Homo sapiens: one gene and its partner. The protein of the gene in region 1 purifies or fractionates together with the protein of each later gene. This does not show direct contact. Each region holds a gene or a part of one and is shown on either strand. Other genes may lie near its edges. The genes, in order: GPER1 and AKAP5.

The links.
Region 2: the proteins of GPER1 (region 1) and AKAP5 purify together in Homo sapiens (co-immunoprecipitation; one study listed by IntAct). This does not show direct contact.

The regions. Positions count from the first base shown.
Region 1 is NC_000007.14:1,086,668-1,091,044, reverse strand, and holds the start of GPER1 (G-protein coupled estrogen receptor 1), read right to left. Parts: upstream 2,933-4,377; 5' UTR 2,724-2,932; intron 1-2,723. UniProt on the Homo sapiens protein: G-protein coupled estrogen receptor that binds to 17-beta-estradiol (E2) with high affinity, leading to rapid and transient activation of numerous intracellular signaling pathways.
Region 2 is NC_000014.9:64,468,182-64,471,750, forward strand, and holds part of AKAP5 (A-kinase anchor protein 5), read left to right. Parts: 5' UTR 1-213; coding exon 214-1,497; 3' UTR 1,498-3,569. UniProt on the Homo sapiens protein: Multivalent scaffold protein that anchors the cAMP-dependent protein kinase/PKA to cytoskeletal and/or organelle-associated proteins, targeting the signal carried by cAMP to specific intracellular effectors.

The DNA of each region.
Region 1 (4,377 bases):
GGGAAAATGCATTTCAGCAGCTGATGGAGAAGTAAGATAGGAAGGGAAAGCCAGTGTTTCTGAGAGAGAGAGAGTGGGTCCAGAAAGCTGGACATCAGAGCAGAATCTTCTCTTACGATAAAACAGAAGTTCAGCGGTTTCCTCATGCTAGTTCTGTGTTCTAGGTACCAAAAATAAACTTATTTTCGTAATATAGAGTGAAAGGGGTCATTGTTTTGGGAAATAATATGTACGTTTTTATTTCATGTTTTAACAAATTATTGTAAAACCTAATATGTTTTTGCAATGCTGTTTGTAACCTAGGAAGAAACTCCAGGGAGAGAGTCCCTCCCGAGCTTATCCTCTGCAGAGAGGGAGAAGTGGGCTGTCCGCCCACGGCGGTGCCCGGGCTCTGCCGCCAGTGGGGAGGGTCCCGTCACCCACCCCGTGTCACCCTGGCTCTGCCGCCAGTGGAGAGGTCCCGTCACCCGCCCCGTGTCACCCCGGCTCTGCCGCCAGTGGGTAGGGTCCCATCACCTGCCCTGTGTCACCCCGGCTCTGCCGCCAGTGGGGAGGGTCCCATCACCCACCCCGTGTCACCCTGGCCCTGCTGCGAGTGGGGAGGTCCTGTCACCTGCCCCGTGTCACCCCGGCTCTGCCGCCAGTGGGGAGGGTCCCGTCACCTGCCCCGTGTCACTGTGCTCCTGGAAGTTCTCTATGCAGCGGGCCACGGGGGTCTCAGCCTGCAGACACTGGCAGTCTCTGGGGATGCGGGGGCAGTCACAGGGGGGTGCTGGTGGGGCCAGGGCTGCCGCTCAGCTCCCTACAGTGCCTAGGACAGGTGCCCAAGCCCAGCAGAGAATTACCTGGCCCAGATGGTGCTGGTGCCCTGGAGTAAACTAACACTTCAAAATGGGTTTGAGTTGTTTTTCCTTTGGGAATTTTCATTTTACCTTTTGAAATCATTAGGAGTTATTGTTTTGAATGTTTTTTTTTTTTGGTCACCCAGGTTGGAGTGCAGTGGCACAATCTCGGCTCACTGCAACTGCCGCCTCCCGGGTTAGAGTGGTTCTCCTGCCTCAGCCTCCTGAGTATCTGGGATTATAGGTGTGCACCACCACGCCTGGCTAATGTTTTATATTTTTAGTAGAGATGGGGTTTTACCATGTTGCCCAGGCTTGTATCGAACTTCTGACCTGTAGTGATCTGCCCGCCTTGGCCTCCCACGGTGCTGGGATTACAGGTGTGATCCACCGCGCCGGGCCAGGGGTTATTGTTTTGAAGTGCTGCAAAACCAGACTAGAGATTTGTTGACCTATTGCTTGAAAATACTTACTTAAAAAAAAAAAAAAAAAAAAGGCTGGCCTATAATCCCAGCACTTCAGGAAGATGAGGTGGGAGGATTGCTCAAGTTCAGGAGTTCGAGACCAGCCTGGGTAACATGGCGAAACCCTGTCTCTACTAAAAAAAGACAAAAAAAGTAGCTGGGCATAGTGGTGTGCGCCTGTAGTCCCAGCTACTCGGGAGGCTGAGGCAGGAGGATCGCCTGAGCCTGGCAGGTAGAGGTTGCAGTGAGCCAAGATCACACCACTGCACTCGAGCCTCAGCCGAGATCACACCACTGCACTCGAGCCTCAGCCGAGATCACACCACTGCACTCGAGCCTGAGCTACTGCAGTGAGGCCCCATCTCAAAAACAGGCGGGTGGGGAAGACAAGATGAATCACTGCCTCTGTGTCAGTTATTCTAAAAGTACTGAATAACCTTCACTTAGCTGGGGCTGGTGAATTTGATTTTGGTTATTTTGCACTCTTGATTCATCTTTAGTAGATAATACCATTGAACAGCATAAATGCCTCTGCTCTCAGGCTCTGTCGGGAAGGTTGAAAGACTCCGCATTTCGCCTCTGTATTTAATTTCTTAAAAACGGCACAGAGGACTTGTTTTGCTCTTTAAATGTAGAAATTTTGGAACGTATTAGACCGTGGCGTGGCAGGAAGTTTAAAGGTGGGCAGAACCCTCAACTTAACGTTTATTTTCTTTCCTAATTTTGTTAAATGAACTCCAAGGGAAAAATAGTTTAAAAACGAGTCATTCATTTCTTTCCCATGTAAATTGAGTCTTTTGATCGTTGCCAGACACCGAGAAGATACGGGACCTGGTGTCTGATGTGTCCTAGTGTCTGATGTGGTCCTGGGTGAGAGGAACCTAGTGTGCCATTCACCACTGGCCCCACGTCCTCACTGGAGGTGGCCATGGAGTTATAAACAGTGCAATACCTCATTTCAGATTTCCTCTGCTTGTCATAGAGAAATAAAGCCACACTTTAGTCAGCTGTATTAAGTCTGCATCTGTCAAAAGGCGTGTGGCCCTCCCAGGGCTTCAGGGTTGGTGAGAGTGACTGGGGCACCGCAGGGCAGGGCAGAGTGGGCACCCTCATTTTCTTGAAGTGAGACACGTTCTTGCTGGGACAGAACGTGACGGAATACTGGGTCCTGCTTTCAGCACGAGTTAGAAAGGCCGTCCAGGCAAAGCCCCTGCTGCGGTCACGCTGAGACCACCGGAGCTCCGGGGGAGAGGGGTCTGTGCCTTGAGTTTGGGAAGCTGGGTGCTGCTCTCACCAGGGGGTGAGGTGTCTGGTCTGTGTTCAGCTGTTCCCATAACAGGACAGCGGCCTGGGTGGCACCACCCACCCGCTCCCCTAGTCAGTGGTATGGCACCGCCAGGCCGAGGCTGAGTCCTACCTGGGTTGCAGCCCCTTCTGTGCTCCTGGAAGCCTCCTTGGTCAGGCCCATCAGGCTGGAGGTGCACTTGGAACCCGCTGCAGGAGGTGTACCTCTGCTGGACCTGCCGAATGCCTGAGCAGGGCTAGAGAGAGGAAGAGACCCGCCCTGGGAGCCCGCGAGGGAAGGTTCCCGGCTGGCTGGCGGGTGCGTCCTCCCTCTGAGCCAGTGAGTCTGCCCCTTGGCACAGGGCTTTATAGGCCCCCTCCGCCCCGCTCCTCTCTGGCTCCTCTCTGGCCAGGCTCTGGGCGGCCTCCTCAGAAGGCTAGTGTTAACCATTTTTTTGCTGGCCCTTTTTCTCCCACACTTTGGCAATCAGCTCAGTTCTACTAGACTTGTTTTTGTGGAAGTTTCTGGTTTAACTGCTTTTCTTCACCCACAGATACAAACCTTTCTTTAAGTTTGAAGGCATCATACTAGGTGTTGTGTATCTTTTAGGCAATAACCTGTCCTCCTGGGTTGAAGCAAGCAATATTCTTGTTTTTGCAACTGACCTGCGTTAAACACTAAATTTCATAATTAACTTAGTAGCATGTGCATGATCCATAAAGAATTTAACAGGAATTTCACAGACATTTGCAGAGAGAAGTGTAATCCCAAGAAATAGGCATTTCTGACAAGTAACTTAGGAATCTGAGTACTGGTTAAGCATCTGGAAATCTGAAATCCAGAGTGCCCCACAGTCCGACACTGTTGGAGCGTCGTGACACAAGTGGAAAATTCCACACCTGACCTCGTGTGGCGGGCTGCAGTCCAGGCAGTTCAAAGTTTGTTTTATGCATGAAATTGTTAAAAGTGTTTTTATAAAGTTGCCTTCAGGCAGTGTGTATAAGGTGTGTATGAAACACAAATGAATTTCGTATTTAGCTTTCTCATTCTGTACCTGCAGATATTCCAAAATCTGCAAAAATCTGAACTCCGAAACTCTTCCGGTCCCAAGCATTCAGACCAGGGACCCTCAGCCGGTAGTTTTCTCTGAGTGTTAGCGGTGCCTCAGGTCCCTCCTCCCGCGCTCGCTGCAGAAGCGTCGGAACTTACCTGCCGTCCAGATGTTGGTGGCCTCTTCCCCACCAGGGCCGCCTCTCCTGCTCATGGTTGCGGATTTCACAGTCTCGTGCAGGCGGAGAATAAACCTCCCTCCCCGGACTCTCGGGGCCGCTGAACTGCCTCATGCGGGGCGGCCACTTCCGAGTGCGCCCCCTACTGGCCATTTGAATTTTCACTCGCCGCTTCGGGAACCGATGGCCGCCCCATGAGGGCAGAGCGAGGCCCCCCAAGCCCGCGTGGGCTGTCCAGGCCGAAGGGGTCCTCAGGCACCGCCAGCCCCGGCTCTCCAGGCGGAGGGGTGGGTCTTCCTCAGAAGGGAACTTCAGCGAATCTCACTCCTACTTCTAGGTGTCGTTTTCCCTCTGTAATGTTTTGAAGTGGTGAGATTGAATGCTGAGTGATCCTTTGTCCGCTGAGTATGAGTAATGCGGCTGCTGCAGCCTGAGGCGTGGTTCAGAGACCTGCGTGGGCTCCCCCCTTCCCCCTCCCCCCCAGGAGAGCTGGTGCAGGCAGAGGACTGGGGTGCTGGGCCTCCAGGTGCACTCGGCCCCTCGGGACCTGCTCCCCG
Region 2 (3,569 bases), on another chromosome or scaffold:
GAAATTAAAGAGAGAAATTACAAGCCATAGAGAAACTGGGCATTTCTATACTAGAGAAACCACCTAAAACAACTGTATGGAGTAAGATGAAAGGTATGAATATGCCTGGAAGAAATTTTACCTAGTGTGACATTTTTGCTCATCTTTTTGTCACAAAAGGCTGCTAAGGAAGAGAGAATACAGTTTTCTAGAGAATAAGAGTGCAGTGTAAAAATGGAAACCACAATTTCAGAAATTCATGTAGAAAACAAGGATGAGAAGAGATCAGCAGAAGGTAGTCCTGGGGCTGAAAGGCAGAAGGAAAAGGCATCCATGCTTTGCTTCAAGAGAAGAAAGAAAGCAGCCAAAGCACTGAAGCCCAAAGCTGGCTCTGAAGCTGCTGATGTGGCAAGGAAGTGTCCACAAGAAGCAGGAGCTTCTGATCAGCCAGAGCCCACACGGGGGGCCTGGGCCTCACTCAAACGTCTTGTAACACGCAGGAAAAGGTCAGAGTCTTCAAAGCAGCAAAAGCCATTGGAGGGTGAAATGCAACCTGCAATAAATGCTGAGGATGCTGATCTTTCTAAGAAAAAGGCAAAATCTAGACTTAAGATTCCCTGCATAAAATTCCCAAGAGGGCCAAAAAGGAGTAATCATTCCAAAATTATAGAAGACTCAGACTGCAGCATCAAAGTCCAGGAAGAAGCTGAAATTTTGGATATACAAACACAGACCCCATTGAATGATCAGGCAACAAAGGCTAAGTCAACCCAGGATCTAAGTGAAGGCATCTCACGGAAAGATGGTGATGAGGTCTGTGAATCAAATGTGAGCAATAGCACAACTTCTGGAGAGAAAGTGATTTCAGTAGAACTTGGATTAGATAATGGGCATTCTGCTATTCAAACGGGAACTCTAATCCTTGAAGAAATTGAAACGATCAAGGAAAAACAAGATGTTCAACCCCAGCAAGCAAGCCCACTTGAAACTTCAGAAACAGACCATCAGCAGCCAGTACTTTCTGATGTTCCTCCTTTACCTGCAATTCCAGATCAACAAATTGTGGAAGAAGCCAGTAACAGTACCCTAGAAAGTGCACCAAATGGAAAAGACTATGAAAGTACAGAGATTGTAGCTGAAGAAACTAAGCCAAAAGATACTGAATTGAGCCAAGAATCAGATTTTAAAGAAAATGGGATCACTGAAGAGAAATCCAAATCAGAAGAAAGCAAAAGAATGGAGCCAATTGCTATTATTATTACAGACACTGAAATCAGTGAATTTGATGTTACAAAATCTAAAAATGTCCCTAAGCAATTCTTAATTTCAGCTGAAAATGAGCAAGTAGGGGTTTTTGCTAATGATAATGGTTTTGAGGATAGAACTTCAGAACAATATGAAACACTCTTAATTGAAACAGCCTCTTCTCTAGTCAAGAATGCTATTCAGTTGTCAATAGAACAGCTGGTTAATGAAATGGCCTCTGATGATAATAAAATAAACAATCTTCTACAGTGACTTACTCTCCAGAGTCACGGCAGAAAAAACAAGCTTAATGAAGAATTCTTTTATACATTTGTGGCATTTCTTACTCAGTAACAAATGAGAGATTTATCATCTCTAGAACTTAAAAGGTACAATTCCAGCGCAGAAGTGCTAAAGATTAAGTCAAGTTTATAAAACTCTACCACTGAAATGCAGTCACTTCTGGATTGGAGGAAGTCAGCACAGATTGCAGTGTAAAATGACATAACATACAGGGAGTTGCTAAAATGGCATATGGAGATTGGAGTGCTTTGGGGGAGGAAGGTGTATTTATTGAGCACTTATGGTATGCCATAAGCTTTTTAATGACCTCTGATATAACAAAGTCTGGTTTCCTTTTGATAATTCAGCTCTGTGTATAGGCTAACATCACATTAAGTTTTTAAAAACTTATTTTTTACAGTGCACATATATGTTTAAAATGGTGAATAAGGTGAGCTACTTTTGTGAATGTGATTTGTAATTGTTACATTCCTAAGCAGCAGGCTTAACTCAAAAAATACATTGCATTTTCCCAATTTCAGCAGATAGTGTGCAGAATATGCATATTGATATTAAACGTGAGTGGTTTCCTAGTCTTAAGTCTCTTATAAGCGCTATTTGGCCAGGGGCAGTGGCTCACGCCTATAATCCCAGCACTTTGGGAGGCCAAGGCGGGTGGATCAGCTAAGGTCAGGAGTTCGAGACCAGCCTGGCCAATGTGGTGAAACCCCATCTCTACTGAAAATACAAAAATTAGCTGGGCGTGGTGGTGCACGCCTGTAATCCCAGCTACTTGGGAGGCTGAGGCAGGAGAATTGCTTGAACCCGAGAGGTGGAGGTTGCAGGGAGCCAAGATTGCACCACTGCACTCCAGTCTGGGCAACAGAGCGAGACTCCTTCTCAAAAAAAAAAAAAAAAAAAAAGAGAACCATTCACAAATCCTTCAATCAGGCAAATTGTTACTAAGTGCAAAAGTGTAGAAACAGGGAGAGTGGGTTTTTCCCCCGCTTTTCTTTCTGCCTCAACAGATCTGTATATATCCATTTCTGCATGGATTTATCTGTGAAAAGTTAAAAAATGAAACAGCAAAAACAAAACAAGGGGAATATTATTCTTCATCCAGGAGAAGGGAAAATTCCCAAGTAAATTATCACAGATAATATAGGATTCATCTTGCAGAATTACTTCTTTAAGAGCCATATTCATCAACTTCTCTCCAAAGAGGGGAGAGTAGATTCAAAGCCAGCCTGGTAGTAATGGTCCTGGAAAATCCTAATAATCTAGTGCAAATATTTATTCTCGGCCAAAAATGAGCCATGAATGTGGGTGAATAGAAAAGTGAAAAGTTATTGCTAAAGCACATTATAATTTAAATGTCAGTATTCCTTCATGTCTGTGTGTTGAGACCAGTAAAAAGCATTTTACATGAATATTGAAAGTTAACTTTTTCATCACTATTTTCTTTTCTTTTTTTTTTTTTTTTGAGATGGAGTCTCACTCTGTCGCCCAGGCTGGAGTGCAGTGGCGCGATCTTGGCTCACTGCAAGCTCCACCTCCTGGGTTCACACCATTCTTCTGCCTCAGCCTCCCAAGTAGCTGGGACTACAGGCGCCCACTACAACGCTCGGCTAATTTTTTGTATTTTTAGTAGAGATGGGGTTTCACCGTGTTAGCCAGGATGGTCTTGATCTCCTGACCTCATGATCCTCCCGCCTCGGCCTCCTAAAGTGCTGGGATTACAGGCATGAGCCACCGCACCCGGCCTTCATCACTATTTTCAATCCAGATATACTTTACAAAAATGAGAAGGGCTTATTTGCATTTTTATTTACATATTGAAAGGGAAGCATCTGATCTCATCAATGATTGCCATATTTTTTGAAAAAGTAATCCTATTTCAATCTTTCCTTGTGTGAAATGGCCATAATACCAGAGTGCACTTCCCTACCTCACAGGTTAGGATTCAAAGTGTGTATTCCCCCATTGTGTAAATTGAGTGATTGTGTTACTACTTGAAACAGATGAAGTAATAAAGATGAAGTATGAGATGTAAGGTATTTGTT